Homo sapiens: one gene and its partner. The protein of the gene in region 1 interacts with the protein of each later gene in a pairwise test. Each region holds a gene or a part of one and is shown on either strand. Other genes may lie near its edges.

Region 1 (3,500 bases):
ACAATTATTGTAAGTAAATAAGTCAGTAATAATCACCACATGGAGAACAACTGTTAGCATTTCTGTGTATGGTGTGCTTGAGCAGATGAGGAAACAGTTTTAAGTCTGCCGTTAGGCACACAAACCTGGGAGACTGAAAATATTTGTTGTCCAAAATTACCATTAATTAAATGAAAAATGCATCGTTTAACAGAAAACTTCAAATAATACTAAATTTTAGGATCTGTTCTAAAAGTTTCCCATTTATTAATAACATAATTTTTCTCAAAACAATGTTAATCCAAGTAGCCTGGCTACAGAACTTGAACTCGAGTCATCTCTCAGGTTGCCTGGGTTTGAAACTCGGCTCTGTCACTTCTGTGACAATAACTGTGTGACCTCAATTAAGCTTCTTAACATCTCTGTGCTTGTTTCCTCATTTATAAGGATTGTAATAATATCTCATTTTATAGGATTGTTGAGAAGTTAAGTACTTAAAGCACTGCCTGGCACAAACTTGAAGCTTTGAGGTTAGCCTTTAAAAAAAAAAGTAATTTTGGACTCACATCCTATACCTTTGAATTTCCTTTAAAAGATAGTGACATAATCTAAAGGGCATTGAAGGTCTAGTAGAGTTTAAGATAATCATGCTATAGGCAATATTTAAAGTGATTAATAGTAAATTTGCTTTACTGATTTGTATATTTAATTCATAATTGTTTCTTTACAGGTTTCTTTACCTCCAGAAAGAAGAATATTGGCCCCTTGAATTCTGGAAGTTCATTGAAGAGTCTGAAATTAGGGACTTATTTCAAATTTGGACATGGCTAGTCGAGGCGCAACAAGACCCAACGGGCCAAATACGGGAAATAAAATATGCCAGTTCAAACTAGTACTTCTGGGAGAGTCCGCTGTTGGCAAATCAAGCCTAGTGCTTCGTTTTGTGAAAGGCCAATTTCATGAATTTCAAGAGAGTACCATTGGGGGTGAGATTTTCTTTTTTCCCTGCTTCATTTAATCGAATCATACATTGACAGAAAATATTTTGATGTTCCAATTGTGTGATTATGAATAGCTAAATAAGTCATAGAGTGAAGAAAAGAGCTGTTCAGCTTACCTTAGCTTTAAAACTTGCCTTTATCTTTGTTAAAATGATGTGTTTTTATATTTGATTGTTTGGTTAATCCCTTGTGGTTATATTGTAGCTAAAATACAGATAAAAAACATGAGTAGAATCAGTGTCTCAAGTAATAACATTTGACCTGATACCTATTTCTAGCTAACAACTAGAAGCTTCTTCAAATTAATACAGTACATGTTTGTGCTCAATTATATTGGTTTAAAATGAATAGTAAAAAAGGTAACCTTAAATTCTGATCTATATAACTGAAGTATTTGCAAATAATTATACTTACTTGTAAAATTAAATGTAATTAAATACTGCTAGATGTACTTTTTTTTGGTATTTAAGAGATGGGATCTTGCTGTCGCCTAGGCTGGAGTGCAGTGTCCGGATCATAGCTCACTGCAGACTGCAGCCTGAAACTCTAGGCTCAAATGATCTTCTTGCCTTAGCCTCCCACCAAGTAGTTGGACCTAAGGGTGCATGCCACCATGCCAGGCAAGTTTTTTTTTTTTTTTTTTAAGAGTCAGAGTCTCGCTGTGTTTCCAGGTTGGTCTTGAACTCCTGGCCTCAAGTGAGCCTCCAGCCTCAACCTCCCAGGTAGCTGTGATTACAGGTGCTCCCTGCTGAGATGCATATGTAAGAATGCTCCTAAGCTGAGGGAAGAGAAAAAGTGATTAATGGAAAGGGACATAACAGGAAAATGGAACCTGAAGAAAAAGATGAAAGAAGAAGGGAAAGAGTAGGCACTGACAAGGGTGGTTATGGTGGGACAGAGATGAGGGGAAGGTAAGATGCAGGGTGAAAAGGAGACAACAAACAGTACAGTATTGTCAAGAGAGGACGTGAAATGGGAAAATTGAATTTTAGCTGGACATGGTGGTGCATTCCTGTAGTCCCAGGTATTTGGAGGCTGAGGCAGGATTATTTTAGCTTGGGAGTTCAAGTCTAGCCTGGGCAACATAATGAGAACCCATCTCTTAAAAAAAATTGACTTTAATCAAAGAAACCTATAATTATATAGCAGTGGGACAAGATAGCCTCTTTTGGGCCTCTGTTTCATCTGTGAAATGATGCTTTTCAATTAGATGATGTGTGGCAAGAGCCACACGGTTTGAGATTCACAATATTTTGCAAGTGATATATAATTAAGCAATGCTGTTTTCTAAGGTATTCATGTATATATTTTAACCCCATCCTGTAAAATTAAAGTCAAACTTTGGAAATAAGACAGGTAGATACCAACTGGCATGTGGCAACTTCTTGGAATCTGTCTTTCAGAAGCAAAACTTTATACTGTGCATTTAGTGAATGCTCTTCTGCAAATATACTTGAGAATGTTATTCATAATCTTAGACCCATTCTAGTAAGATAAGTTACAGAAGTCTACTACCTCCTGGCCTTTGTATATCTTGTTAAAATGTTATATTAGAATGTTTTATGTTTTTTCTAATGGCTGAGCATCAGAAAGCATCATGGAGCTTTTATTTTGAGTCAGAAGTCTTGGCATTTTAAAAAATGTTAATACACAATATATTAGACATCTTTGTGATTTTTTTTTTCCCTGAAAGTACATCCACGTGTGATTTTGTTGTTGTTGTTGTTATTGTTAATACATTATATCCAGTTTAATAATGAAATACTACTTCTCAAGAAGGCTTTGCTTCCTCCAGAAGTGATTTGGTCAAAGCTAACTGTCCCATCTAGTAGGAAAAGTTTAAAGACTGCTAGATCATGTCCACCCACTTATTTCACTGTTAATGGAAGCATTTCCCAAAGTATATGTGCATTCTGGGTTAAATAACCTGGGCCACGTAGGTTTGGGACTTACTATATGCTACTCTTCTCCTCTCTCTTTATTATTTTATTAAAACAATAAAAACTCTGAAGTACTGTAGTATAGGACTTAATTCCTGGGGAGCTTTGCAAGAGCTTAAGATTAGAATTTTTATCTTGTTTTGGATAATGCACTTCTAAGTTTATTTTTTCCTAATGATAGCTCAAGAAGGATGTTTAAAAGAAAAATGTAACCCCATATCCTGTGTATCATAAATATATCTCTGATATGTGTGTATCTCTATATAATCTCCATGTAACACCAGTTAGATTGTCTAGATTTCATTAATGAATTTTTCATAAAGATTTTCATTTCTATGTGTAGAGCTTCCTGTTTAAAAACAAAAAGGAATTTGCATCCAAATTTCTGTTAATCCTTTTTTTTTTTTTTTTTGGAGACAAGGTCTCTGTCGCCCAGGCTGGAGTGCAGTGGTGTAGCCCTGGCTCACTGCAACCTCCGCTTCCCAGGATCAAGCAATTCTCATGCCTCAGCCCCCCAAGTAGCTGGGACTACAGGCGCAAGCCACCACTCCTGGCCAATTTTTGTATTTTTAGTAGAGAT
Region 2 (3,250 bases), on another chromosome or scaffold:
ATCACCTGAGGTCAGGAGTTTGAGACCATCCTGGCCAACATGGTGAAACCCCGTCTCTACTAAAAATGCAAAAATTAGCTGGGCGTGGTGGCAGGTGCCTGTAATCCCAGCTACTCGGGAGCCTGAGTTGGGAGAATCGCCTGAACCCCAGAGGCAGAGGTTGCAGTGAGCTGAGATTGCGCCATTGTGCTCTAGCCTGGGTGACAAGGGCGAAACTCTGTCTCAAAAAAAAATAAAAAAATAAAAAAGTGATCTATATTGGCTGGGTATGGTGGGTCACGCCTGTAATCCCAGCACCATGGGAGGTTGAGGCGGGCAGATGGCTTGAGGCCAGGAGTTTGAGATCAGCCTGGCCAACATGGCGAAACCCTGTCTCTACTAAAAATACAAAAATTGGCTAGGTGTGACGGCGTGCGCTTGTAATCCCAACTACTTGGGATGCTAAGGCACGAGAATACCTCGAACCCAAGCAGTGGCAGTTGCAGTGAGCTAAAACCACACCACTCCACTCCCGCCTGGGTGACACAGCGAGACTCTTGTCTCAAAAAAGAAGAAAAAAACATGATTTATATCATTAACAACTATTGCACTTGCATTGTTAACACTGCCCGGCAAAGTGTCAGCTTTCTGCTCTGTCTGAATCATTTGAATATTAATGGACTATATGCTCTACAAGATGGTCTGGGTATATATATTTTTTTAAAATTAGTATTTCTATGGGGCTTTGTAATCCTATTTTCAAGTAAACTATTTTACAAATACTAAACATGTGCGTCTTTTTTTTTGAGTTGGGGTCTCAACTCACCCTGTTGTCCAAATTGGAGTGTAGTGGTACCAACATGGCTCACTGCAGCCTCAAACTCCTGGCCTCCAGCAATCCTTTGGTCTGAAAGCCCCAAAGGACTGGCATTTGGGGGTATGCGCAACAGTGCCCAGCCCAGCGTATGTTACATTTAAACATATGTTTTTAGGAAAACTTTCTATGAATACATAAATTTGATACTGGGCTTATTTCTTTTGCTTCTTTTTAACATTTTCTCACTTTTTTTTTTTTTTTGAGACGGAGTCTCGCTCTGTCACCCAGGCTGGAGTGCAGTGGTGCGATCTCGGCTCACTGCAAGCTCTGCCTCCCAGATTCAAGCAATTCTCCTGCCTCAGCCTCCCAAGTAGCTGGGACTACAGGCATGTGCCACCACGCCCAGCTAATTTTTTTGTATTTTTAGTAGAGACAGGGTTTCACCATATTGGCCGGGCTGGTCTCGAACTCCTGACCTTGGGATTCACCCACCTCGACCTCCCAAAGTGCTGGGATTACAGGCGTGAGCCACTGTACCCGGCCTATTTTCTCACATTTTAAGATTTTCTAGAGGCATTGCCTTGTCTTGCGAGAGAAAATTACCTTAGATTTCTCCTGGGATTTTTGTACTCATCTTCAATGTTCTGAACTTTCCATGTTTTTCCTAAAACACAGACCCGGAGAAAACACAGATCCAGAATTAGTATGAATTTATTTAAAAATCATTAGATTCTGTATTCATGGTACATGGTAGCCATGCCTGATTTATTCATCAAAGTATTTTTTGTCCATGTTCCAAATCAATGAACAGCATTGATGAGCTAGAAGCATTTGTTCTCTAATTCACTGGGAAGTAATATTGTCATTCTTACCTACAGAGGTCAGGTTCTTGAAGGTTTCCTGCATCACATCCCTGTAGAGATTCTTCTGGGAAGGATCCAGCAAAGCCCACTCCTCCTGGGTGAAGCTGACAGCCACATCCTCAAAGGCCACTGAATCCTGAAACATCTCACATATATAAAAGAGGACAGGTAAGACTAACAGCCCTGGAGGCCTATACTTTATTCCTAAGAAGTTCTCATGATACTGTGGACTCCAAACATTTATCCCATGACTTGGTCATCACACCTCTTACTTTCTGTCTATACTCACGTCCTCCCACAAACCAACCCTTTTTTTGTTAAGAGAGAGGGTCTTTGGCCAGTCGCGGTGGCTCACGCCTGTAATCCCAGCACTTTGGGAGGCTGAGGCAGGCAGATCACTTGAGGTCAGGAGTTTGAGACCAGCCTGGCCAACATGGAGAAACCCGTCCCTACTAAAAATATAAAAATCAGCCAGGCGTGGTGGTGGGTGCCTGTAGTCCCAGCTACTCGGGAGGCTGAGGTAGGAGAATTACTTGAACCCAGGAGGTAGAGGTTACAGTGGGCCGAGATCGCGTCACTGCACTCCGGCCTGGGCGACAAAGCAATACTCCATCTCAAAAAAATAATAATAAAATAAATAGGCCAGGCGCAGTGGCTCATGCCTATAATCCCAGCACTTTGGGAGGCCAAGGTGGGCGGATCACCTGAGGTCGGGAGTTCGAAACCAGCCTGACCAACATGGAGAAACCCTGTCTCTATTAAAAAAAAAAATACACAATTAGCTGGGCATGTTGGCACATGCCTGTAATCCCAGCTACTTGGGAGGCTGAGGCAGGAGAATCACTTGAACCCGGGAGGCAGAGATTGCGGTGAGCTGAGATTGCACCATTGCACTCCAGCCTGGGCAACAAGAGTGAAACTCCGTCTCGAAAAAATAAAATAAAATAAAATAAATAAAATCTATACTAATCAAGAGAAAATGGTATTAACAGATGGAAAGATAGACTAATGGAAAACAGCAGATTCTGAAAATAGTGAAACCACGACAAAGCAGGTATCACCAGCCAATTATGCAAGTGGTCCTCACTTACCAGAAGGAACAGGGACAGATGGTTACCTACAGGAGAACAAACAATCTTTGAAGCCCATCATCTCCATATGAATTAATTCTAGAGTTGCCTGTTACCGTGACTTCTTATGTTACCTTACCATGCATTTTCATTATGGGTTTCACTTTCTTATAACAGAAGAAACCCGTACTCAAGCCGTGTGTAGTGGCTCATGCCTGTAATCCCAGCACTTTGGGAGGCCAAGGCAGGCCAATCACTTCAGGTGAGGAGTTCAAGACCAGTCTGGCCAACATGGTGAAACTCCCTCTCTACTAAAAAACACAAAAATTAGCCGGGTGTGTGCGTGCCTGTAATCCCAGCTACTCGGGAGGCTGAGGCAGGAGAATCGCTTGAACTCGGGAAGCGGCGGTTGCAGTGAGCTGAGAGAGCGCCACTTCACTCCAGCCTGGGCGACAGAAAGAGACTGTCTCAGAAAAAAAAAAAAAAAAGAAGAAGAAGAAAGCTGCACTTGACCTCAACAG

What was found. The genes of interacting proteins can lie anywhere in the genome.
Region 2: the proteins of RAB5A (region 1) and ZNF20 interact in binary tests that used the Homo sapiens proteins (3 or more experiments, as listed by UniProt).

The regions. Positions count from the first base shown.
Region 1 is NC_000003.12:19,950,097-19,953,596, forward strand, and holds part of RAB5A (ras-related protein Rab-5A), read left to right. Parts: intron 1-709; 5' UTR 710-802; coding exon 803-965; intron 966-3,500. UniProt on the Homo sapiens protein: The small GTPases Rab are key regulators of intracellular membrane trafficking, from the formation of transport vesicles to their fusion with membranes.
Region 2 is NC_000019.10:12,134,101-12,137,350, forward strand, and holds part of ZNF20 (zinc finger protein 20), read right to left. Parts: intron 1,805-3,250; coding exon 1,669-1,804; intron 1,461-1,668; coding exon 1,400-1,460; intron 1-1,399. UniProt on the Homo sapiens protein: May be involved in transcriptional regulation.